3 separate regions of the Homo sapiens genome follow, and regions 2 and 3 are each linked to region 1. Evidence: fine-mapped expression QTL. A gene starts in region 1. Each other region holds a variant in brackets. All regions are shown on one strand. Distances are from middle to middle. Region 1 holds the start of BLMH (bleomycin hydrolase). Region 2 overlaps TMIGD1 (transmembrane and immunoglobulin domain containing 1). Region 3 overlaps CPD (carboxypeptidase D).

What was found.
Region 2: its variant is fine-mapped to the expression of BLMH in whole blood (INTERVAL, PIP 0.99).
Region 3: its variant is fine-mapped to the expression of BLMH in whole blood (TOPMed, PIP 0.91).

The regions. Positions count from the first base shown.
Region 1 is chr17:30,287,375-30,295,689 of GRCh38, forward strand. It overlaps BLMH (bleomycin hydrolase), which reads right to left and starts at 4,570. Exons shown (of 12, transcript NM_000386.4): 1 at 4,433-4,570; 2 at 3,937-4,134; 3 at 1,999-2,108; 4 at 432-573. The coding sequence starts at 4,445. LOC124903971 (a long non-coding RNA gene) reads left to right here and starts at 7,316. Exons shown (of 2, transcript XR_007065700.1): 1 at 7,316-8,166. It also overlaps the pseudogene RNU6-1267P. RefSeq lists an enhancer at 3,791-3,850 and silencers at 4,301-4,370, 4,571-4,980.
Region 2 is chr17:30,319,918-30,328,232 of GRCh38, forward strand. It overlaps TMIGD1 (transmembrane and immunoglobulin domain containing 1), which reads right to left. Exons shown (of 7, transcript NM_206832.3): 4 at 4,899-5,177. Among named protein-coding and RNA genes, the nearest start is that of TMIGD1, 10 kb to the right of the region's middle. The variant C/A (reference allele first, on the strand shown) is at 3,082.
Region 3 is chr17:30,387,051-30,395,365 of GRCh38, forward strand. All of the region lies in intron 2 of CPD (carboxypeptidase D), which reads left to right. Among named protein-coding and RNA genes, the nearest start is that of CPD, 12 kb to the left of the region's middle. RefSeq lists an enhancer at 977-1,662 and a silencer at 7,421-7,715. The variant G/A (reference allele first, on the strand shown) is at 4,274.

The sequences.
Region 1 (8,315 bases):
ATCTACTATACTTTGTCACTTCTCAGCCTTTTGGTCAAGCTCAAGTGTATCTATCATACTTTTGTAAAGTGCTCAGCATGATGAGATTTCCCCAAAAGATGTTTTGAAGACATTTTAACACAGCTACAGTTTTAATGTGTTTCCTGATTACATCAATGGAGAAGAAAACAATTTTTTCATGGAAAATTAGTTCTCCTTAATACTACCTTTTCTTCTCCAACCCATCCTTCACAGTAGCTCTCTCCTTAATCCTCATTTAAGAAGGCACTTTATAGGTGAGAATGTGAACTAAAGGTCCTTAGAAATAACTATATATCCTTCTTGGAGACCAATTCTACTCTGTACACAACCACCAAAGAATTGGCCCATGCCTAACTACAGGCTTACTTAATCATGCTGAGTTTCAGTTCCATTAAAGAAAGAACTTTTACCAACAATATTAACAAGCATATCCCATTGGCCACCATCATTTGCAGGGTTCATAAGCAAAAACTGCACCAGCCTCCCATCCTCAGGCTCCTTTCTCTGGGCTGTGTCCACAAAAGCACTCAAGAAGAAATAACAGCGTTCAACCTAAAGAGTAAAGAAAGTTAAATAACATTAAAAGAAAAAAGTGTCAATAATTTTATTGGCATTATCAACAGAATGGGAGTCTTGGAATTACCATGGAATCAACATAATAGTTTTTTTTCTTTTTAAAAACATGAAACCTTCATGAATTTGCATGTCATCCTTGTACAGAGGCCATGCTAATCTTTTCTGTATCACCCCAGTTTGGGGACTTACGATGCTGAAACAAGCACCATAATAAGTATTTTTAAACTAAAATTGGTAAATAAACATCAGTATCTGACTTCATCAGAATATCTGAAGTTTCTTCTTTTACCTGTGTATGTATCCCAATATATTGTGTATATGTGTACAGTGTTTACATTCCAATGCTAAAACAAAACATTTAATGAACACCTATGTAATATATATTTTATTTACTTATTTATTTTTAGACAGGGTCATGCTCTGTTGCCTAGGCTGGAGTGCAGTGGTGCAATCTCACTGCAGCCTCAACCTCCTGAGCTCAAGCAATCCTCCTACCTCAGCCTCCTGAGTAGCTGGGAGGACAGGTGTGCACCACGCGTGGCTAATTTTTGTATTTTTTGTAGAGATGGGGTTTCGCCAGGTCCAGACTGGTCTCAAATTCCTGGGCTCAAGCAATCCTCTCACCTCAGCCTCCCAAAGTGCTGGGATTACAGGCATGAGCCACCAAACCAGGTCAGTAATATACATTTTGAAGATTAGGAAATGGAATATGGCCAGGAGTGGTGGCTCACACCTGTGATCCCAGCACTTTGGGAGGCCAAGGCAGGCAGATCACTTGAGGTCAGGAGTTCGAGACCAGTCTGACCAACACGGTGAAATGCCCTGTCTCTACTAAAAATACAAAAATTAGCTGGGCATGGTGGCATGTGCCTGTGATTCCAGCTACTTGGGAGGCTGAGTTGAGAGGATGGCTTGAACCCAGGAGGCAGAGGTTACAGTGAGCCGAGACTGTGCCACAGCCCTCTAGCCCGGGTGGCAGGGTGAGACTGTCTCAAAAAAATAAATAAACAAATAAACAATCAAATAAAATTATTTACTGTTTTTCAGACAAGTTCTTGAGAGGGAAATTAGGTCCTAGAAAAGAACAAATAACCTAAAAAGATGTTAAAAAGGGAGATATATTGAATTGAATATTGAATATAAAATTTAAAATTTTAAATAGACAAGCAAGCAGTAAGATGAGTCAGTAAACTTATTTCATTGCAAAAAAATGGCCACCTACCAACCAAAAACAGTTCTGCCTTTGAAAGAGTCAACTTTTGATACTCTGGAAGTCAGAATAAAAGGTGTCTCACCTATTATGAAAGGGCAGGCTATAACTGGAAAAGCTACAAAAGAAGAGGCAGTCCCTACCAAGGCTGATATCAATACAAAAAGAATCTTGCCAGATCTGTCCCATACCTTGTCCCAAAAAAACAGGTAAGATTGGCTAAACTCAAATTCTTCAATATTTAACTTTTTCATGAATGGAAGCCTCATAACATTCAGACAAGAAAAGATCCAGCATCGCCCTGAAACAAGAAAGCACATCAAGAAATTATGAGGGTTCACATAGACTGCACTGCTCCAACTGTATTTCCCACCAATGAACTCATGACACGATCTGGACAATTCAGAAAGAGTAAATCAGAAAGAGCAGAAAGATTAAAAACAAAACAAGAAAGGTGGTAATTATTATTAGCAATATATATGCAAAGGTTTAATATCTTTAACACAAAAACACTCTTTACGTATCAAATAAAGAATCCATTTTTCAGAGTAATGCCTTCTCCAAATTGTACTCTACTTCAAAATAAATTAACTGAGAGCGCCATTAGAAAAGTCTTTTAAGGTCTTAAATACAGGGAAATTATCTCTTTTCTGAGGGAAAATTCTGAGGGAAAAACTTTGACTTGTATTGGGTATAACCTTTTTACTAATATGAAAATATGTTTATAATATATTGGTAAGTGAAAAAGATAGGTAGCTTACATAACAATGTATAAGGTATCAATGCATATTAAACACTATTAAACACACACACACACACAAAACTTGACAAATATACAAGAAAAATATTTACTTGGTATTTACAAATATTCTACATTAAACAAAAATAATTTTGTAACAAGAAGAAAACTCTAGTTAACTATAGTGTTTTATGAAAGTCACTAGTGCCTATTAGTTCGTCTTTACCTTACATTTACCTGTATGTCACCTCTCTTCTATATGCTATATATTTCTAGTAGAGGGGATCTGGATGCACTGGTGATGTGAAAACTGCATGAAAATAAACTACACAACTCACATGCTATTTGGATCTTTTGTATGTAAAAGTGACACTGCAAAATGTGTAAGACCTGACCTGTTCCCTAACGGGTCACTGCAATCTAAACTATGTAGGACCACTGTGACATTACTAACTGGATCATCTGTAGCCTGAGAGCCCACACCACTCCAAGCACTTTCTTCTAAAGCAAAACATTAATTATTGTAAGGTCTTGACTTTTTCCTTAACATTTAAAAAATCAACTTTATTCAGGTATAATGTACATACAATAAAATGTACTCACGTTAAATGTGTGCTTTGTGAGTTCTAACCGACTCTAAACAAGCACTGATGTGCTTCCTGTCCGTATAGATAGACTGGGGGGTCGTTTTTAAGTATAGAAAGACTTTAAAAAATCCGTTTAGTACAATTTTGTTGTGAGAATGTGCTCCTTATTTAGATTGCTGGATATCCAATCTTTCACTATACCTGTTTTTTCTGAGAGTGGTGCTAGAAAGCAGATAGCAAAACGAGACTTCTTGACCAGCAAGGCATGAGAACAGAACTTTTTTCTGTATTACAAACTGATCTACTGGTGGGAACTGAGCCCATCAGCACATTAGCTTCAGTTGTAACCAAGAAGCATATTTAAAAGTAACATCTGATGACATTTTAATGTAATTACATTGTATCTTTTCTATTTCATAGTATAGGGCCTTCAGGGCATTTCTGGGGAGTCCTCCAAAGATATGAACATTTTCACATGTTCTGTTTTGTGACCAAGACCATACATCTCCAAGACACGGGCTACAAACCACACAGCATTGGAACATAATATAGTCAATTACACTCAAACGTATACTCATGGACATGTCACTTTTGTACTCTAACCGCATGTACTAACAAGCCACAGAACAGCAAAACAAACCACATGGGTAATGTTCTTAGACCTGCCTGTACCTGTGCCTCATTCTTTACGAATTTACGACCAGTTCTTTCAGTACGAATTTAAGACCACTCTTAAATAAGACACCAAAATGGGACGCTGTCAGGAAGGTCAAGGAACGTATGGGAGAAGTGGAAGCCCACACCTGAGCTCTTCTGGTTGGTGATTGGCTTGCCCTCCTGGGGCACGGCGTGCTGGAACACATGCTGCGCGCGCTGCACCGTGGCCCGCTTCAGACAGATGTCCAGCAGGTCGTGGGTGGTCCCGACATTCTGGGCAAGTACGAACTGGGGGTCGGAATTCAGTTTCTGTATCAGAGCAGCTACCTTCTCCGAATTCAGTCCTGTTGGGAGACCAAACAGGATTTTAACGCAAAAAGAGGGGGAAAGGGCTGATCTGGGGCTCCCGCGTCCCGAATCTAACTTCGTAAGCGCATCCTGGGGTGCCCGCTGCAGCGGGGAAACCCATAAGCGGCATCCTCCTCCAAGGAGCTGTCTCCCTCCAGGCCGATCCAGCCTGCCCCGAAAGCTCCCTCCCCGCCATCGCCAAGGGTCCCAGCCCCCGGCCTTCCCCGCCGCCGGGCCTCACGGGGACCGCGGAGCTCCTCCAGAGGACCGCGGCGGGGGACGGCGGCACCTCACCCGAGCTGCTCATGGCGCCCACGCTGCCCGGCGGGGTAACGGTAGCTTCCAGGGTCCTTGGGCGAGCGCCGGGATTGCGCTGCGGCTCGCTGCCTAGGGGGCCCGACCTGTCTCTCGCACCCGGAGCGCCGGAAAAAGGAAACCGGCTCGGCGGCGGCGGCGGCGGCGGCGGCGGGGAGGCTGAGGCTGGGAGAAACGGGGTCCGCGGAGGGACAAAACTCCCCCCTCGCGTTGCTGAGTCAGCGCCGTCGGGGCTGGCCCCGCCCGGGGGAGGGCCGACGGGGGCGGCCTAGCTGACGCGCTGGGTCCGCCAGCGCCCGGGGGCTGAGGCCGCGCCTGCCCCCGCGCAGGACCGCACAGATGGTCTGCGCGCCAGGGCGGCGCCGGCGCCTTCTCCCCCTAGGTTCCCGCCTCCGGGCCGCGCGGGCGCCCTCCCGGGATCAGGCCCGCTCCAAGGAGGGAGGCTGACGGGTTCCCTGTGGGCCCAGACCCCCAGTACTCTAGCATCGGGGAATCGTCCCCAGGAAGCCTTGTGAGAAGCCAAAAGGGAGCTCGAGGCGGGAGGGAGGAGCTGAGAGGTCCCATAATTAAGCGTCGGGCTTAGGACGGGTCGATATGTCACAAGGAATGCACCCGAAGGCTCTTCCTATAGGCTTCGTTTGCTGACCAATCACTGCATTCTCAATGGCAACTTGTTGCTTGGATTCTCATCAGAAGCAAATAATTGTCTTTGAGGGGGAATGGGAACCAAGCTCTTCCCCACCCACTCCAAAGCTACTACCAGAGTTCTACAAATAGACATCTGCTCATTTCAAGAACACTACCCATCTGGTCTTCACGGAGTCCACGAGTGGCTCCTGTATAGTCCAGCATGTCCCGTTGGGTTTAACTCAGGAGGATGACAGAGGCTAGCCGTATGCATCAATATTGTTTCGCCGAGTTCTCTACAAAACTAACTGATGCTCCCCCTCTAGGCTTTCAAGATAACTCAACAGTTTCCCAAAGTTTTGAGATTGTAAAAACCTTGTTTTTGTTGATTCCGTGTTTCATGCCCTGAAATCTCAGCCCTTAGTAAGATGCTGGGATAGAACCCACAGAGAGTAAAACAAAAACACTGAAACCCTGTATCTGCTATTCAAAACGATGAGGTTGAGTGTGTGTGTGTGTAACCTAGAATCTAGGTCTTCTTAGATTGAAAATCATCGCAGTTCTAAGGAACTCTGATATCTGGAAAAATCCATACTCAGGCACCAATCAGTCATTTGAGAAAGCACGGTTTCTATGTCCCTAGAGAGACTCGGCTAAAAATTGGGGCTATAACATAGCAACTATCTTAAGTGGGCCCATCAACCATCCTATTCTGAGGTTCTTTCAATATCTGAAAAAGAAGAGGCTGAAAATTATACAGAAAGAAATCACTGGTCCTTTCACAAAATGATGTTCAAGCATCCTGCCCAATTCAAGTCATAAATTTTTATTCAGTATCTAACATGTACTAGGCACTGGACAAACTGCTGATGACATAGAGACGAACAAAGCTTAATCTTGCCGTTAAGAAACTCAATGTAGTAGGAAAGAGATGCAAAACAACTTTTAGACTATCTGTAGTAGCATACCAATAGTGCTGTAGACTGTAGAAGCAATGAGGAGAGCACTGTCAATTAGGGCCAAAGGGTGCCTGAAAATAGAAGTGACAAGAGAGCATGATCTTGAAGAGTGGATGAGATTTTTACAAGTCAAAGAACAGGAGAAGGGCATTCAAGGCACCAGCGAAGGCGCAGTGAATAAAATCATGTTCAAGAAAGGGTGCATCATAATCGGATGTGGCTAAGAGCAAGGCATGTTTTGGGAGCAGAGGCAAGGTGTAGGACTGGAAAAGTTTTGTAGGTTTGGGCCAAGATATAAAGGGTTTTATGTTCAATGCCTGAGCATCTGGACTTTATCTTATGGTTAATTAGAAGACAAAATGGGTTTTGAAACAAAGGAAAAATATGCTCAAGTCTGTGTAAAAAAAGAAACCTGGTGGCAGTGGGGAGAGTAATTTGGAGGGGAGGGGCTCTGGAGATAGGGAAACTGGTTAGAAGGTTCTTCCAGTAGTGAACTTGGGAGAGGACAAAAGCCTTACATTGCGGAAAGGGAAGAGGCATTGATAATCTTGAAGTTTTCAGCGGAATAAGAAGATGGAAGGTGGTGTCATTAACCAAGAGAGGGCATACAGAAAAATAGGCATATTTGCATATTTGCAAGTGTGCAGATCTGAACTGAGTTTGGGCCATAGCAAAATTAGGATGCCCCACAGGACACCCAGGAAGAGAAGTTCAGGACGTAGATGAAAAGATGTCTAGAGATTAGATGAGACACATAGGTTCGAGGTGGAACAATGAAAGTCAGCAGGGTTACAGAGGGAAAGAGGATAGAGCAATAAAGAGATGAAGACCACAGATAGTGCCCTGGGCTGCAATGTGCAGTTGCACAGGGTGTTCATGGCACAAGGGCACCAGGCTGAGTGTGGTGAGTAGGGACTAAAATGCAGTCCAGGCTCTGCTTGCCAAGCCATGCACCCTGGCCCAGGCTGTGCACAGAGTATGATGTACCTTTCACTACTTTTTTTTTTTTTTTGAGATGAGTCTCACTCTGTCACCCAGGCTGGGGTGCAGTGGCATAATCTCGGCTCACTGCAACCTCCACCTCCTGGGTTCAAGCAATTTGCCTGCCTCAGCATCCTGAGTAGCTGGGATTACAGGCACGCACCACCATACCCGGCTAATTTTTGTATTTTTAGGAGAGACGGGGTTTCACCATGTTGGCCAGGCCGGTCTTGAACCCCTGACCTCGTGATCTGCCCACCTCGGCCTCCCAAAGTGCTGGAATTAAAGGCATGAGCCACCACGCCTGGCCCCTTTCACAACTTCTTATAAGGATGCCATATGGGAGTAGTATTAGCTCTGAAAATGATAATGTTTAAAGTATGGGTGAAGACAGAGGAGCCAGCAGAAATAGAAAGATCAGTCAGCGAAGTAGGAGACCCGGGGAGTTATGTCCTGGAATCCCAGGAAGGCAAGGAGAGGACAGTGAATTGAATTAAAAGCTGCAGAAAGTCAAGTAAGATTGGTTTTGGCAACTGGGTTACAGGCAACCTTAGAGAGGGCAGTTTTAGTGGAAGGGAAGGGTGGGCAGAAGCCACATCGTAATGAGTTGAGAGGGAGGTAAATATTAGGGAAGCTCTTTGGGGAGAAAGGGTAAATTTGTGTCTACTGGAGGATGAGAGGAAGGAACCAGTACAGATGAGAGATTAAATATGTGTCAGAGAGGATACAATTGCAAGAGTAAGAGCTCAGGAGGAGATGGAATCACTGGGGAAGGTGGAGGGGACCAGTTTTACAGCTATTGCCACCCTTTCCATACTGGCGATTACATTTCTCCACCCCATGCCCAGAGATTTCTATCATCATCTCTTTGCTGGCCTCCTGCTCTGTCCTCATCATCAGGGTGGCACCCTTATTACCAGATTTCCACCCAGCAATTCACACCCATGCACTCAGCCCCCATATGGGCATGGTGAGGAGGTACAGAATAAAACCGGTTTCCCAGTGGGTTACCCCCAAATGACCTACCCAGGAAGACATTTCTCCAAGAAGAAAATTCTGTGTTCTATCCTTCTTATTCCAGCCAGAAGAGATGTTGTACAGCCCGGTGACACCTCGTGGGACAAAGCAACCAGAAACAGAATTCTAGTATGAAGTCTCTAATATTAAAAAAGAAAATATTGCCTGTAATCCCAGCACTTTGGGAAGCTGAGGTGGGAGGATTCCTGCCTTGAGTTCAAGGCCAGGAGTTGAAGACCAGCCTGGGCAACATAGTGAAACTCCACCACTACAAAAAA
Region 2 (8,315 bases), 33 kb after region 1:
ATGCCATGCAAAGAGAGAGAGCCTACTTCTAACTTGGACTAGGAAGAGATCAGCAGCAACCATGACAGCTTGGAAGTGAAAGCCTACCCCTTTATTTTCTAAACACCAGGTCAACTGAGAGCTATTTTTTTTTTTTTGAGACGGAGTTTTGCTCCTGTTGCCCAGGCTGGAGTACGGTGGTGCAATCTCGGCTCACTGCAATCTCTGCCTCCCAGGTTCAAGTAATTCTCCTGCCTCAGCCTCCCGAGTAGCTGCAATTACAGGCACGTGCTACCATACCGAGATAATTTTTGTATTTTTAGTAGAGACGGGGTTTCACTGTGTTAGCCAGGATGGTCTCAATCTCCTGACCTTGTGATCCGCCTTCCTTGGCCTCCCTAAGTGCTTGGATTACAGGTATGAGCCACCGCACCGGGCCAAGAGCTACTTTATTTATCAGTCACTATAGGCATAGTGCCTGTGTTTGCAAGCTTTCTAAGAGCCTTTGAAAATATTTGAGACCCAGAAAAAAATGATTGGCCCCAAGATATGAAAAGAAAGTAGCAAAATTAATCAAAATTAATCAATGTTTAAGCATCTGTAAAATGCAACCTGGCATCAACTCTAACCGAACTGTTAAATAATAATGTTTAAACCTCAAGAACCAAATGAGTAACTTATTTATAACAAAATTCAAAATCTATACAAGTTATAAAAATTCTTTCAAAAATTTTATAGCAGAAAGCACATACAATGTGCTTTGCTTTAATATCTTTGATATGATATGGAATGAAACTCTCAAAAGTAAAAGTGAAAGCCAGGCAGCGTGGCATATCCGTAGTCCCAGACACTTGGGAGGCTGGGGCAGGAGGATTGCTTAAGCCCAGGAGTTCAGGGCTATAGCACCCTATGATTGCACCTATCAATAGCCACTGCTCTCTACCCTAGGCAACATAGTGAGACCCTTTTTTTCTTTTTTAAGACAGAATCTCGCTCTGCCGCCCAGGCTGGAGTGCAGTGGCTTGATCTCGGCTCACTGCAACCTCTGTCTCCTGGGTTCAAGCGATTCTCCTGTCTCAGCCTCCCAAGTAGCTGGTACTACAGGTGTACACCACCATGCCCAGATAATTTTTGTATTTTAGGTAGAGACAGTGTTTCGCCATGTTGGCCAGTCTGGCCTCGAACTCCTGACATTAAGTGATCTGCCTGCCTTGGCCTCCTAAAGTGCTGGGATTATAGGTGTGAGCCACCATGCCTGGCCAACCCCTTTTTTTTTTTTTTTAGAGATGGAGCCTGGGTATGTTGCCCAGGCTGGTCTTGAACTCCTGACCACAAGCAATTCTCCTACCTGGGCCTCCCAAAGTGTTGCAATTACAGGCATCAGCCACTGCACCTGGCAGGACCCCGTTTCTTAAAAAAGTAACAAAGTAAAAGTGCTTCAGTTCAACAAAGGTTTTAAAGTGACCTTGTCTAAGCCCCTGGATTCTGATGCCATCCAACGACGGGAAGGAGCTTCAGTCATGGCTTAAGTAACATTTTAGGCATTTAAAGGAAATTGAGCATGTGCTATTTATCGCACAATTGAGTTTATGGATTGAGGTGCAGTCAACAAATATTTACTGAGTGACTAATGTGTGTTATGCACTGTGTTCAGCACTGCAAAAAATAGGACAGGTGTAGAAGGCTCCTCTGCCTTCGTGGAGCTCATCTTCTAGTGAGGGAGACAGACATTAAACAAACAGACACTACAGATTAAGTATTAGAAAGGAAACAGGGTCATGAGTTAGCAAGTGAAGGGCAAAAACCAGGGAAGAGGGGAAGAAGTGACTTTAGGTAAATTTAATTTCAAAGCCCAATCCCTATATACCTTAAGATTATGAAATAGGGTTTATCTCCCCTGTCCCCATAACTGTATAACACACTAACCAGTTATTATTATAATTATTTTTGGAGACAGGGTCTCACTCTGTCACTCAGACTGGAGTGCAGTGGCATGATCATGGCTCACTGCAGCGTCGACCTCTAGGGCTTAAGAGATCCTCCTACTTCAGCCTCCTGAGTAGTCAAGACTACCAGTGCGTGCCACCACACCCAGTTAATTTTTTGATTTGATGTAGAGACAGGGTTCCAATATGTTGCCCAGGCTGTTTTGGAACTCCTGGGCTCAAGCAACCCTCCCGCTCGGTCTCCCAAAGTCCTGGGATTACAAGCATGAACCATCCCACCCAGCCTGTAACTACCTTTTTATCATTTCCTGCTCTGGATAATTTTGGGAAATAAATGGATTAAATTTTTGCCCTCTCTTAGCTGTTTCTAAAAATTATTCTCATGAAGGTATGGGTCATATCACCCCTATGGAGAAACTTTGCTCAGGGAGCCTTTTTCTAGTAAGCCCTGGTTCTGTACTAGCCAGCTCTGGGACACACCAAAGGCCCGTCAACCTTACTGGGGAGCCCCTCTATTTGCAAGATATCAAAACAAAGGGGAAGTAAAGGTGGGACAATAAGAAAAAGAAATCAGAATTCAGTCACAGGTTGGAATATTTTTACCAAGCCAGATAAAATGAAGCCACATGTGACAGCTCTTACTCTATTTTTTTATTTTTATTTATTTATTTTTTGAGACAGAGTTTCACTCTTGTTGCCCAGGCTGGAGCGCAGTGGTGCGATCTCGGCTCACTGCAACCTCTGCCTTCTGGTTTCAAGCAATTCTCCTGCCTCAGCCTCCCAGGTAGCTGGGATTACAGGTGGCTACCATCATGCCCGGCTAATTTTTTTTGTATTTTTAGTAGAGACGGGTTTCACCATATTGGTCAGGCTGGTCTCAAACCGCTGACCTCCTGATCCACCCGCCTCGGCCTCCCAAAATGCTGGGATTACAGGCGTGAGCCGCTGCACCTGGCTGACAGCTCTTATTCTATACACAAACCGAAGTAAACTACCTTACCCATTGGCTTGCTTTGGATTCCAAATTTCTGTTGAAAGTGACTTTGGTCGGGGCATGGTGGTTCATGCCTGTAACCCCAGCACTTTGGGAAGCTGAGGTGGCAGATTGCTTGAGCCCAGGAATTCAAGACCAGCCTGATCCACATGGCAAGACCTC[C/A]TCTCTACAAAAACAATTTTTTTGATTAGCTGGTTCTGATGGCACGCACCTGTCCCAGCTATTCAGGAGGCTGAAGTGGAAAGATCGCTTGAGCCTGGGGGGATGAGGCTGCAGTGAACTATGATTACGCTACTGCACTCCAGCCTGGGTGGCAGAGCGAGACCCTGTCTCCAAAAAAATAAAAGAAAAAGAAAGAAAAAAGAGACTTTGGCAAGGGTAATTACATAACTGCCCCTCTCCCCTTGTCCTGTTTTATGGTCTCATTTGTAACCAGACCTGATATTTCCCTCCTATATTCATCATGGTTAAATAATCCCAACACATGGGCTAAATCTTGTGCTCAAGAAAAGATCTGTGATGTCGTTTGTAGCTTTGCATGGCCTCATTTAGGTACTTCCTCACTGAGCCGTGAAGCCAGGTGAGGGCTCATGAAAATCTTGGCATTTAGCCCAAGCCCCAGCAGCAGAGCATTTATGCCACCAGCCGTGGGAAGTAGCTAAGCAAGAAGAAATAAGAAAAACAAGTTGGTTTGGAAGAGCCCCACCCAAAACAAGTTTCTGCCCACCTGAAAGCCAATTTGCTAAGCTAGCATCCTGATTGCCACATAAGCTGTACTTTTTTTTAATGTGACACAGAGCAATTATGATTTCTTCTTAACCAGGAGGGATATAATTCCCTGGCCTGCAAGTGTGGTGTTCATAGTCAGGATGGCAGGGCATGAGGCCCACCCTTCCATGCTTTTGTGGTCTTGGGGGAGGTAAATAACCACAAAGCTTTTTCACTGCTTCTATCTCATGGGTATTCAGGATATTTGTGGGTTTGGTTTTTAAAACAAGTAGCCCCTGAGCAATTGTTAGTGCTCCGCAGGACGAATTACTGATCATTCCAGGAATCACAGTGATGGGCATTCAACCACCAGTAAGTCTTCTTCCCCACTAGCCACTCTTTTCATATCCCATAACTCTTCCCCTCAAGGGGAAGCAAATAAGATGTCCTATGGTTACATCACCACAACACTTCTGGCAGGGGTTCAGCTGGCTTCCTGGTGACTGACAAGACTGGCAATAAGTGAGTACAGGGAGGCAAATGACAAAGTGAGTAATGTTCTAACAAGATATGGGAGTCTCAGCTTGTTGGGCTGCTCCTGGTGTGCTAGCATGAGAGCAGACCATGTGTGAATGAGCATTTTTGGCATCTGCTACCCCAGGTATTTTGCCTTTCTCTTTTTGTATGAGCAAGAAATATGAGGAGGGAAAACCCCACAGAGCATCATTTGTTCTGTCATTGTAGAGGTGATAACCCTGGGTAGATGAAGCATGAATCCAAGAGAAAGGGCTTTTTTGTCCCCTTATTTTTTCCTACTCTCTCTGCTGATTACCCTACAGGTTAGAATTTGAGTTAGGAGTGATTGTAGGGATCCATTTTCTTATCTAGTCCTAATTTCTCTTCTCTGTGTGTTTTTTACTTCTGTTAGTTATGAAGCTGTGAACTCAAAAGTCCAGTTGCTACACACATTGTTGCCCAGGAGAATTCATGGAAATACTCTTCCCTAAAAGCCAAGCAGGATTGTTTCCTATATTTGGTTCTAAGAAAGGATTCTTGCTCAAAAAACAGTGTCCTGTATGGAATGGGCATGATTTCCCTGAAAGGATGGACTAGGATTCTTAGTGGAAAAATCCTTGGATGGGGATGATTCTCCAAAGAAAATCCTGGCCCTAATCATAACCGTTATTATCATTTATTGTCACCAGAAATATTCACTGAGCATCTGGTGTGAGTTTTGCACTGTGCTGGGTATTACTTAAAAAGAGCATTACCTTTAACAATCAGGTGAAAGTCCAAGCTCTCCGTTTTCAGAGATGACTTTGCAATACAACTGTAGGTTCCGTTGTCAGGCTTCTCGACTTTGGTGATTGACAGCTGAAAAGACTCACTTGTCTGTTGGATTTGGTGACGGCTTTTCTCTAAATCGAGGAGACTACTGTTTTTGTACCACATCATTTGAGCCTGGGGGTTGGCTTTCACATTGCAAACCAACTTCACATTACTGCCTTCCTCAACTGTTTGGAAGTCGTTTCCACTTAGGAGAGGAGGAACTGCAAGACTCAAGCATTTAGATTTAATTAGCAGATAAGCAATAGTTCACTGTCAGAGTTCAAAGTCTTCCTTCAATCTATCTCATGTGGTCATTTATTCATTTGACAAAAATTTATTAAATACGTACGGTGTGACAAGCACTGGGGTAACAAGGGCAAATAACACTTCCAGTTCCAAATCTCATAGAACTTTTAATGTGATGAAGAAGACAAACCATGAAACAATATATGATTATGAGCATGATATATATAGTAATGATCTATGACAAGCAGACAATTTGTAACACTACCCAAGAGTATAAGCCTTGAGTCTTTCTTCTCTGAGAATTAATAAACCAACCTGTGCTAGTGTTGCACAAAACAGTACAAAATTAAGAAGACATACATTGCAATTAGATCTAATTCCATCTACACCGTTTACTGTGACTTTGAGACAGTTAACTAACTGCTAAGGCCTCTGTTTCTCATGTAAAAAAAAAATGGGATAATCATACATCTCCTGAGATGCTGTAAAGATTAAATAAAATAATCCCTGTAAAGAATTTGCCACAGTGCTAGCCGCTATTATTATTACGGTGGTGGTGGTTTTGAGGGTTACTCTCACCGTCTGTTTTTGCATTTTATCGAACCATTGCCTTGGTAACATATTCACCAATGCATCTTTGCGTTTTCTCAGTGGTGCTCTAGAAATAATGTCCTCCTCCCAGAAGGTGTTCTAAGCATGAGAACTCTGGCATCTGTGGAAGGCAAGTGAGTCCCTCTCATCCCTGTGTGTGAGCAACTCCTTTTTTCCTCTACAATAAGGGCAGTTGTAGACCCATAGACAGTCAACACATCTATCACTGTGCATATTCTGGCAGAAGTGCAGAATAGTAATGAAATGGTTGGAGAGTGGGAACTAGGAAAAAGATAGAGACGGAGAAGGAGGAAAAAGGAGCTTGTATAATCTGCACACTGAATAATTAGACCCTGAGTAGGCTGTGTTATTAATAACTCTCTCAGAAGAATGACATTTTGTTGCTCTTTGGAATGAGCTCGAATTCTGTATCATATCCAACAAGGATGTTATATGGTATTCAGATAGGAAGGAAGCTGCTGGAATAGAGAACATAATTGCCAAATGGAACAATTCCATTTGTGGACAGATTCTGTTAGTGATTTCTTTCTATTTAACTATTTGAAATTAATTTAAGCATATCAGTATATGTGAATATCCCCTCTGTAAAAATTAGTACATTTTAGATAAAGCTAAGATCCAAGCTGGTCACTTCCTGATCCCCAGAGATACCCACTGTTATGAGTTTGGTGTAAATCCTTCCCTATCTTTCTTTTTTCTTAAATAGTTTTCTATACATATAGTGTACCCATAGGAAATATATCATATTATTTTAGGGACATGGGAAGGTTTTACATAAAATACTTCCTTTCTCTCAGTAACTTGCATGTTTTTGAGATATGTTTATATTGAACCACAGAGATCTAGCTTATTGCTTTTAGAATGCTATAGTATAATGTATGCCTTTAATCATTTGTGTTTTGATGGGCTTTAGGTTGTTTTCATTTTAAAATGTTAAACAATGCTACAATAAACATCCTTGTACATATCTCTTTATGATCCTGTACATGTATTTCTCCAACGTTAACATCTAGAAGGAGAAATGGTGTGTCGTAAGATATGCACACTTTAAATTTTGATAAGTATTTTGAAAGAGGTGTTCTCAATTTAAACTTTCAGCAACGAGGTATGAGAGGACCTGTTTCTCCACATTCTCCCCCAAACAGTGTATTATCAAGCTTCCATTTAGTTCTTGATTCTGCTATTTATAACAATAATGGTCCTGCCTTTGAAGGGTACATAATATCCTTGTCACATTTTATGAGCTCATTTTGATTTATTGGTTGATGACTTTGTGTCAGTACTGTCATTATGGATTACTGAGCAATTAACTATACACACACACACACACACACACACACACACACACTTAGCAACAATGATATTTAGGAGATTGTTATAAACAGAATTTAAACAGTGGATTGAGGCTAGAAAACTGAAAACAATTTCTTTAAGTCATCAAATCACATTGTTGGCATTTCTGCCATGTCTCCCTTAAGAGGGTTCCATCAGCCTGGGCAACATAGCAAAACCCCGTCTCTACAAAAAATACAAAAATCAGCTCGGCCTGGTGGTGCACGCCTGTAGTCCCAGCTACTTGGAAGGCTGAGGCAGGCAGATCACTTGAGCCTGGGAGGCAGAGGTTATAGTGAGCTGAGATTGTGCCACTGCACTCCAGTGTAGGTGACAGAGTGAGACCCTGTCTCAAAAAAAAAAAAAGTTTCGTGGAATAAGCACTTAAGCACTAGGTTAGAAGCTTGGGAATTAGTGTTTTATTCTCAGCTGCACCTATGATTTGAGCCCCTAGTCCGGGCCTTAGTTTCCTTAGCTGGCTTTTTATTTTATTTTATTTTATTTTATTTTTTTTGAGACAGGGTCTCACTCTGTTGCCCAGGTTGAAATGCAGTGGCGCAATCACAGCTCGCTGAAGCCTCAAACTTCTGGGCTCAGAAGATCCTGTAGCCTCAGCCTCCCGAGCAGCTGGGGCTACAGATGTGTGCCACCATGCCCAGCTAATTAAAAACACACCTTATTTTTTTTTTTGGTAGAAATAGGGTCTCACTATGTTATGTTTGTAGAGATAGGGTCTTTCTACCAAATCATACTGCATCATTATACCTCACCCATTGCCATACCATCCACACCATTCTCATGCAGAACCAGCTTTTCACCCAACAACCCATGTGATCATCTACATTGTATCACTTGACAGTCCCCTAAGCCTATACAGTTCTACCAATGGGTTACCAATACCTGGAACCCAATCATTGAAAAGCTTCACCTTTTTTGATTTTAAGGTGATGTTTAAAGATTCCCTAATGAAAATCTTTTTTTTTTTTTTTTGAGATGGGTCTCACACTGTTGCCCAGGCTGGAGTGCAGTGGTGGCATCTCAGCTCATTGCAACCTCTGCTTCTTGAGTTCAAGCAATTCTCCTGCCTCAGCCTCCTGAGTAGCTGAGATTACAGGTGCCTACCACCGCACCTGGCCAATTTTTGTATTTTTAGTAGAGGCCAGGTTTCA
Region 3 (8,315 bases), 100 kb after region 1:
TTCCCACCAGCAATATATAAGAATTCCAATTTCTTATGAAATGTTATTTTTTAAAGAATTGTTTGTTGTTGTTGTTGTTGTTTTCAGATGGAATTTCACTCTTGTTGCCCAGGCTGGAGTATAGTGGCATGATCTTGGCTCACTGTAACCTCCGCCTCCTGGCTTCAAGTGATTCTCCAGCCTCAGCCTCCCAAGTAGCTGGGATTACAGGTGCCTGCCACCAGGCCCAGCTAATTTTTTGTATTTTTAGTAGAGATAGGGTTCCATCATGTTGGCCAGGCTGGTCTCGAACTCCTGACCTCGAGTGATCTACCTGTCTCAGCCTCCCAAAGTGCTGGAATTATGTATGAGCCACCGTGCCTGGCAAGAATTGTTAATACAAGCTTGAACTGTTTACCTTTTCTCTTTAAATGCTATGAAAACAGCTATTACTCTTTTTAAACTTTAGGTATGCTTTGAATAATAACGTTTTTGTTTTTATGCACAGATGTAGATGTAGAGGGAACTTAGAAGGAATAAGTCAACCAATGGAAATGTCATCAGTGTAAATTTTTTCTTTTCTAGGAGTCTGCCCATGATGAAATGCCTTAGGTCTTCCTTACCTTTTTATTGGCAGTCACATTATAAAGTGTCTTATGACATGTCTCTTAATGTATATTTAAACCTTTGAATTACTCTTTTACTTTTTATATCAAGCCATATGTACCCAAAATGGGTCATAAGTTTGAGAATTTAATACTTTCGTTACTGGATCTTTGGGGTATTGCTTTTCTGGTTGGAAACCTCTGTGCCTGGTGGTGCCTTTGCCCAAGTTCTTGTCCTGCATCCAGGAAGAATGAGGTATGCAGACAAGTGGAGGGTGAGCAAGACAAAGAGGAGCTTTATTGAGCTCAGAGGAGACCGGCAGTGGGCATCTCCTCTCTGTAGGCAGGTCACCCAGTCAAGTGTTCAGCCCTCAGCACAAAGGAACCCTGGAGTGGGTGGCCCCTCTCTACAGGCAGGTCATCCTGATGAGTGTTCAGCTTCAGCTTTCAGCAGAGAGGAGCTACCCTCTGGTTGTCCCATCATCTCTCCATCCTCTGCCTTGCTCTGACTGAGCCCAGGGCTTTTATGGACCTCAGAGGGGAGGAAGTGTATGCCGATTGGTTCATGGGCGCCACGGGCAGCCTGGAAAAGGCACAAGTCCCCACTCCAGTCTATGGGACTGGCAGCCTGGCCCCCAGCCTTCAGGACCTCCCTGGCCTGAAGGTGGGGCCTCACCAGGGACCCCCTCCCTTATACCCAGGAGCTAGTCTGCCTCTTGCTGCTTTCCATGGCACCCCGGCTGCTCGTGCTAAGGGGCACCTGCAAGCCAGTGCTGAGTCGCCCTCAGTCCCCAACCTTGGTTCCCTCTTCCATGCTTGTCAGTGCCCAGTCCGGTGGGGGCCCAGGCAACAGGGCCCAAGCATGTGCGTACCCCTCCGGGCAGTGACAGTGCGCCGCCTCAGCTCCAACCCCAATCCCGGATAGGAGCAGACGCAAGAATGGGGAGAGGCCAGGCAGCAGGAGCAGGCATCTCCAAGCCTGCAAGGGTAAGGGGGGCCTAGGAGGTCGGGGGACGCAGCTGCTGCCAGCTCCCAGCTCCCGCCGACTCAGTGGAGCATGCAGCCCCAGCCGTGCCCCCTGGGAGCCTGTGGCGGGTGGCTCCTAATCCTCGCTGGGCCTGGGCCAGTGTCTGGGCCAGGGGCGACATTGCCACAAGCTTCCCTGTTGCCCTGGGGCTAAGGAGTGGCCCGGAGCTGATTGCGGGCCTGGGGCCAGGCTGTCAGGAGTGTCAGGCTGGGAGGTCACCCCACGTGTGGCGGACACTGGGGACTTGGCCCCAAGTGGCCCGCGCAGAGCCTCCTCCCGAGCCCAGGAACCCGGGACCCTTAGTGGGGTGGGCGCAGTGGCTGCACTTCTGGCCAGATCCCCAAAGCTGGAGCAGCTCCTGCTTTCCGCCCCGCCCCCGAAGCACAGCCCCAGCTCCGCATAGGGGTTCCTCTCTGCCTGACTACATTACTCCCCCGCTGTGCTGCTCTGGGCCTGACCCCATTACGGCAGCCCCCAGGGCAGCGGGCTCTGGGGGGTGGCAGCGGGCTGTGGGGGGTGGCTGCAGAAGGGGTGGCTGTCCGCCTCCTTCCCGCACCTTCCGGCCTGCTGCTGCTATCACTTTCTAGAATTTTCTGATCCTCCTATAGTTTCTACCAGTGTTTCTTGTATATCAGAAGCATTCAAAAAGAGGTTTGACATACTATTTAGAAGTGAAACCTTCTCCCCATAACAATTAGAGGTGATTTGAAAATCATTAAAAATTTTTTTGTAGATAATGGACTTACTTTAATGTGTAATTTTTACATTTCAGTCCTTGGGAAATATATTTAATAAAACCTAACTTTGAACTGGTGGTTTTGTAATCTAGTCAAGTTGCTTCATTAATTTGAGATGATGTTACTTAAAATAATGGGGTAAATACTTAACTTTGCCTTTTTGGAAAAAGTTGTAAAAGGTTAGAAAGTAATTTCTAACTGACAATTAATTGAGGAAGGTAAATGTATCTCATACTACTTAAAAAATAAATATCCGGCCTCTACAAAACGTAGGTGTACTTTGGTATTAAGGCCAGAGATTATTTGGTGAAGCTAGTTATCATCAGATTTTTCTGATTATTCAGACATCTGAAGAAGCTACATTATGCTGCTGTCATTTTTATTTTCATGAGCATCAACTTTTCTCTTGTTTCAGCTGAATGTCGGATATGTCCTATGTTATTTCTACAATAACTGGCTTATTTCTCTTCGTACCTCAGCAAATATTGAGCAGTTTCCCCTTGAAGAGGAGGCTGTGATGGTTTTAGTTTCAACAGGGTGAATTCATTGTGTTTAGTGAGTAAGATGTTGTGAAACCTTGTGACTAGGCATATATTCAAAAAACCCGGATGTCCTGGAGTAATTTTTTTTTTTTTTTTGAGACAGAGTCTTGCTGTGTTGCCCAGGCTGGAGTGCAGGCGTGATCTCAGCTCACTGCAACCTCTGCCTCCTGGGTTCAGATGATTCCCGTGCCTCAGCCTCTTGAGCAGCTGGGATTGCAGGTGTGTGCCACCATGCTGGCTAATTTTTTGTATTTTAAGTAGAGACAGGGTTTTACCATGTTGACCAGGCTGGTCTTGAATTCCTGGCCTCAAGTGATCTGCCCACCTTGGCCTCCCAAAGTGCTGGGATTATAAACGGGAGCCACATGCTCAGCCGAGTAATTTTACTGATGTTCTATGTGATATATTTAGGAATTCTAGCTTAAAGAAGTATAGACCTTTAGAGCTGAAAGTGAATATATTGATTTAGTCCAACCCTTTTGTTTTAGAGAAAATCAAGGCCTGAGAGAGGAACTAACTTGTGCAATATAATGTATTAATATAGCAAATATTTACTGAGTTCCTGCCGTGCCACATATACTGTATTAGGTGATGTACCGGTATACAGTGAGAGCAAAACAGAAACAACTCCTGCTCTGAGGAATCAGATAGTATATTAGTAGTGTGGAATCTGGGGTGATTTGGGCCCTAGTGCCTTTGCCTTCATTGCCAGGGCTGGCCCAGCATATCTAGCTGCCTATGTGGGTGAGCCTTGCTTCATTCAACATGTCTCACAAACCTCAGGATCCATTTAGGAAATGGCTATCCTAATAAGGCTGATGAATAGCCACATCCCCTTCCAAAGCCTCGTTATTGTGAGACCTACTCTGGACTTGTTCATGGAGTAAGATGCCTTTTTTTTTTTTTGAGATGGAGTTTCGCTCTTGTTGCCCAGGGTGGAGTGCAATGGCACAATCTCAGCTCACTGCAACCTCTGCCTCTTGGGTTCAAGCGATTCTAGTGCCTCAGTCTCCTGAGTAGCTGAGGTTACGGGCATGTACCACCATGCCCGGCTAATTTTTGTATTTTTAGTAGAAACAGGGTTTTACCATGTTGGTCAAGCTGGTCTTGAATTCCAGACCTCAAGTGATCCACCTGCCTCGCCCTCCCAAAGTGCTGGGATTACAGGCCTGAGCTACCGTGCCTGGCCGCCTTTTTTTTTTTTTTTTTTTTTAATCACAGTGCGCTGATTTGTATGCCATTTGCCTACCGTTCTTTCTTCACAGTTTTGAAGACATTGTAAAAATCATATGATGTTTTGGTATGTTTATTCCAAAGCAGATTTAATAAAAACTGAACTGTAGTTTTAGGTCAACTTTTAAGCCATGGCGTGTGCTTGTAGTC[G/A]CAGATACTTGGGAGGCCAAGGCGGGAGGATCTTGAGTTCAAGCCCAGCCTGGGCAAAATAATGAGACCCTGTCTCCAAGAAAACAAACAGACAAAAAAGAATTGCCTTCTTTCAAATTATACAATTTAAGGAAGGGCAGGCAACGTATAGTTGAAATTATTTGATCAAAGATCATAGTTTTATGTAACTTTTAGAAGTTTTCTTGGGCAGAACATTGTTATATTTTATTTTCTTGCAGATAGAAGAACAGTAGAAGGCAGTGCAATGTAGTGGCAAAGAGAGAGCTTTGGAATCCCGTTGCCTTAGGTTGGAATCACAACTCTGCCTTGACTAGCTGTGTGCGTGTGTGTGTGTGGTGTGGGTGAGAGACAAATTAATGAATTTCTCTAAGCCTCAATTCCCACTTATATAAAATTAAGATAAATACTATCTACTCACAAGATTAGGAGGCTCAAGTGAGAATGTGTGTAAAGCACTTTAGCCTAGCATCTGGTGCCATGGCTACTTATATCTACTAGAGTTTAAACTTACTCTTGAAGATAGGGACTTTGTTTTATTCCATTTTCTATTTCTAGCACACACAACCATGCCTGGTATATATAAGGTAAATAATAGTCTTTTTGGAATAAATGAATTTTTGCCATCCGAAACATAAATACATAGTTATTTGATCTTTGGATAATCTTTTTTTTTTTTTTTTTTGGAGACAAAGTCTCACTCTGTCACCCAGGCCGGAGTGAAGTGGCGCAATCTCGGCTCACTGCAGCCTCTGCCTCCCAGGTTCCAGCGATTCTCCTGCCTCAGCCTCCCAGTTAGCTGGTGTTACAAGCATGCACCACTACGCCTGGCTAATTTTTGTATTTTTAGTAGAGACGGGGTTTCACCATGTTGACCAGGCTGCTCTCTAACTCCTGACCTCAGGTGATCTGCTCGCCTCGGCCTCCCAAAGTGCTAGGATTACAGGCATGAGCCACTGCGCCCGGCCTAAAATCTTAGATCTTTAGTTAATCTTATAACAATTTATAAAAATATTCTTCCTAGTTTTGCTCCTACTCTGAGTAAATAAGCTTGCCTTACTGGTAGATCCTAGATCAGTATTATTTGAACTTTTTTTTCTTACTTTTAACCTATAATATGAAATACCTTTTAGTTGTGTATGTACATTTCATATATATGTGTGTACATTAAAAAATTTCATGGAACAATACTTTTACTATACATTCTGGTATTATTTCTTTTAGTTTGTTCTATATCATTCTTTAAAAAATATGTCTGAACCCACTAATATATCTCACAACCCACTAATGCATGATGACCTTCAGTTTGAAAAAACACTATTCTTGATCACCCTGTGGTAGAATTCATTTATTTTCAAATTCTAAGTAGGAACAAAACACCTTACAAGTTGTGTGTGATAACTTATTATTTGGGTTTTTCCTCCCAACTTGTTTATATGTTTCAGTTATTTGCAGTGAGGACTGGGCCACAGATATTTATCTCAGATGTTCTACTTTTAGATTGCTTTCCCTAAAATACGAATGAGTGTTGAGTTAGGAAATTGGTCAGAAATATAGTTGTCAGGCCTATGTATTGCTCATGTGAGTCTATGGATTCTATTATTAGTTAGGACAGCTGCCATAAAGCTTTATATTTGTCTTCTTAAGCCACTATAAACTTGAGGCTGAGCCTTTTCAAACTAGTAATTATGATTGTTTTCTCCTCTGGAAGAAGAATAAACTGTTCTTTGGATTTATCAAATTTTCTTCCCTCTCCTTTTATACAATGGACAGAGTTATGAAATGTGGCCAGAAAGCATATAATGTAACCAATTCAGTTTTTTGTGTGAATATCAACTCCTTTTATCATGCAGACAACTATTCTTTCCCCAAACTGGAGGTCAGACTGAGCAGTAGCAGTGTGCTTTAAATATTGAAGTATGTTTGGCTGGAAGTAGATTGTTGATGGAAAAGGAAGAGCATGGGGAAAATAATTACCCACCTGTTTTCAACAATGCTGTTGAAAGTTTAGATTTGGTCCAGAAATGGACCAGAAAGCTTATTTTTGAGGAGTATTTTCTGTGTCATTAAATAGGATATTATGAATTAACCCAGTAACACCAGAAAATTGTAATCTAAAACAAAAAGGAATAAGATGAACAGTATGTAACTATAAAAATACAATATCTGATATTAAGAAACAGACAAATCCATAAATATAGTAGGAAGTTTAAAATAGGCCTCTTTCAGAACTAGTAGGTCATAGAGATCATAACTGTTAGATCACAAAAATGTGAGTAAGGATACAGTGGATTTGAATAACATAAATAAACCAATCTGACCTAATGAACGCGTACAGAATACTGTCCTTATATCTAATTTTCCTGCAGAGTCTGTTTACTAATTTGAGGTGTGGATGACTAAGAAACCAGCTGTCACGCTTAGGGAAGATGCATCTGGTTCTGTTAGCGCTTGTGTTACTTTGTTTTTAAGATTATATATTAAAAACTAAACAACAAAGATACACAGGTAAAATAGGCCCAGGAGCAGTGGAGCACACTTGTAATCCCAGCACTTTGGGAGGCTGAAGTAGGAGGATTGCTTGAGGCCAGGAGTTTAAGACCTGGGCAACTGGTGAGACCTCATCTCTTAAAAAATACAAAAATTAGTGGGGCATGGTGATGCACCCCTGTAGTCCCAGCTACTTGGGAGGCTGAGGGGCTGAGGCAGCAAGATAGTTTGAGCTCAGGAATGTGAGGCTGCAGTGAGCTATGATTGCACCACTGCACTCCAGCCTTTTTTTTTTTTTTTTTTTTTTTTTTTTTGACAGGGGAAGACCCGTGTCAAAAAAAAAAGAAAAAAAAAAGCTTATAATACAGGGTTCATAGGATCAAGTCTAATACTTCTTAGCATGGGAGCGAAGATCCCACAGTCTGACTCAAGCCTATAAGTTTAGCCTCAGCTCCTACCTCTCCTCTGCCACCGGACTACTTGTCCTTCCCAAATGTGAACCTTCACATGTTAGGCTATCCTCTGTCTGAAGTGCTTTTCACCAGTTTAGCTGTAACCTCTTCTGAAACCTCTCCTATAATAACTGTCACTATCCTACCTTCGAGAGCTTTTTGTTTATACAGTACCATCAGTATAATACTTATCCACTTATGTTGTTAATAGTTTTTTTGTTTCCTGTTAGTGTGTGAATTCTTTGATGATAAGGACAGTGTAGTGCTATTCGTTTTGGAGTTATCTTTGTGCAAAATGTATTGGCAGGAAAGAGTCCTAGAGGAGGGAAAACTAGAGAGGTGTTTACAGTCATCTGGGATGAGGTCTCTTTGGAGATAAGGGCTTTACCTAGAGGGCATGTAGGGGAATGAAAAGGGAGTATAAGATACATATATAAGAAGTTATGCAAGAAGAACTGCAGAATTGACCATCGTTTAAATAGCAGAACAGAATGTCAAAGAGAGGATGTCAAAGATATGACTTTGAGGATTTTGAGCTTGGATTAGAAAGAATGGGAGTGGGAAAAACTAATTGGATGGTGGGGATTGGGAGACAGCAAGCGAGTGAGCATGTGTGTATGTGTGTGTGTGTGTGTGTGTGTGTTCGTTCAGGTGAAAGAGGAGTGAAAACTGGAAATATTAATAGTACTTGATGTACTAGTCACAAGTACCCAATGGGCAGTTAGGGAATAGGTTCTAGAGCTTGGGAGAGAGGTCAAGATGAGAAAGAGATTTAGAAGTTTTGAGACATTTGGAAAGCATATGGCAGTGTAGATGATTTTGAAAATTGAATTAATAGTGTTTTCTGGCATAATTTAATTGCGTGGAGCTAGAAGTTCAACCAGAACATATATATAAATGAACAGATGGGTGCTTTTTTTTTTTTTTTTTTTTTACCTCTAAAGTGAATGCATTTCGTACTGGGATGTTTTCCTTAAGGAATGCCAACAATTCAGATATTAATTCTCAGCCTGATCATATTTTAAAGGTACAGTTGATAATCAAATGTGCATTAGTAAAGTGCTTTTGGTCTTACCTGATCT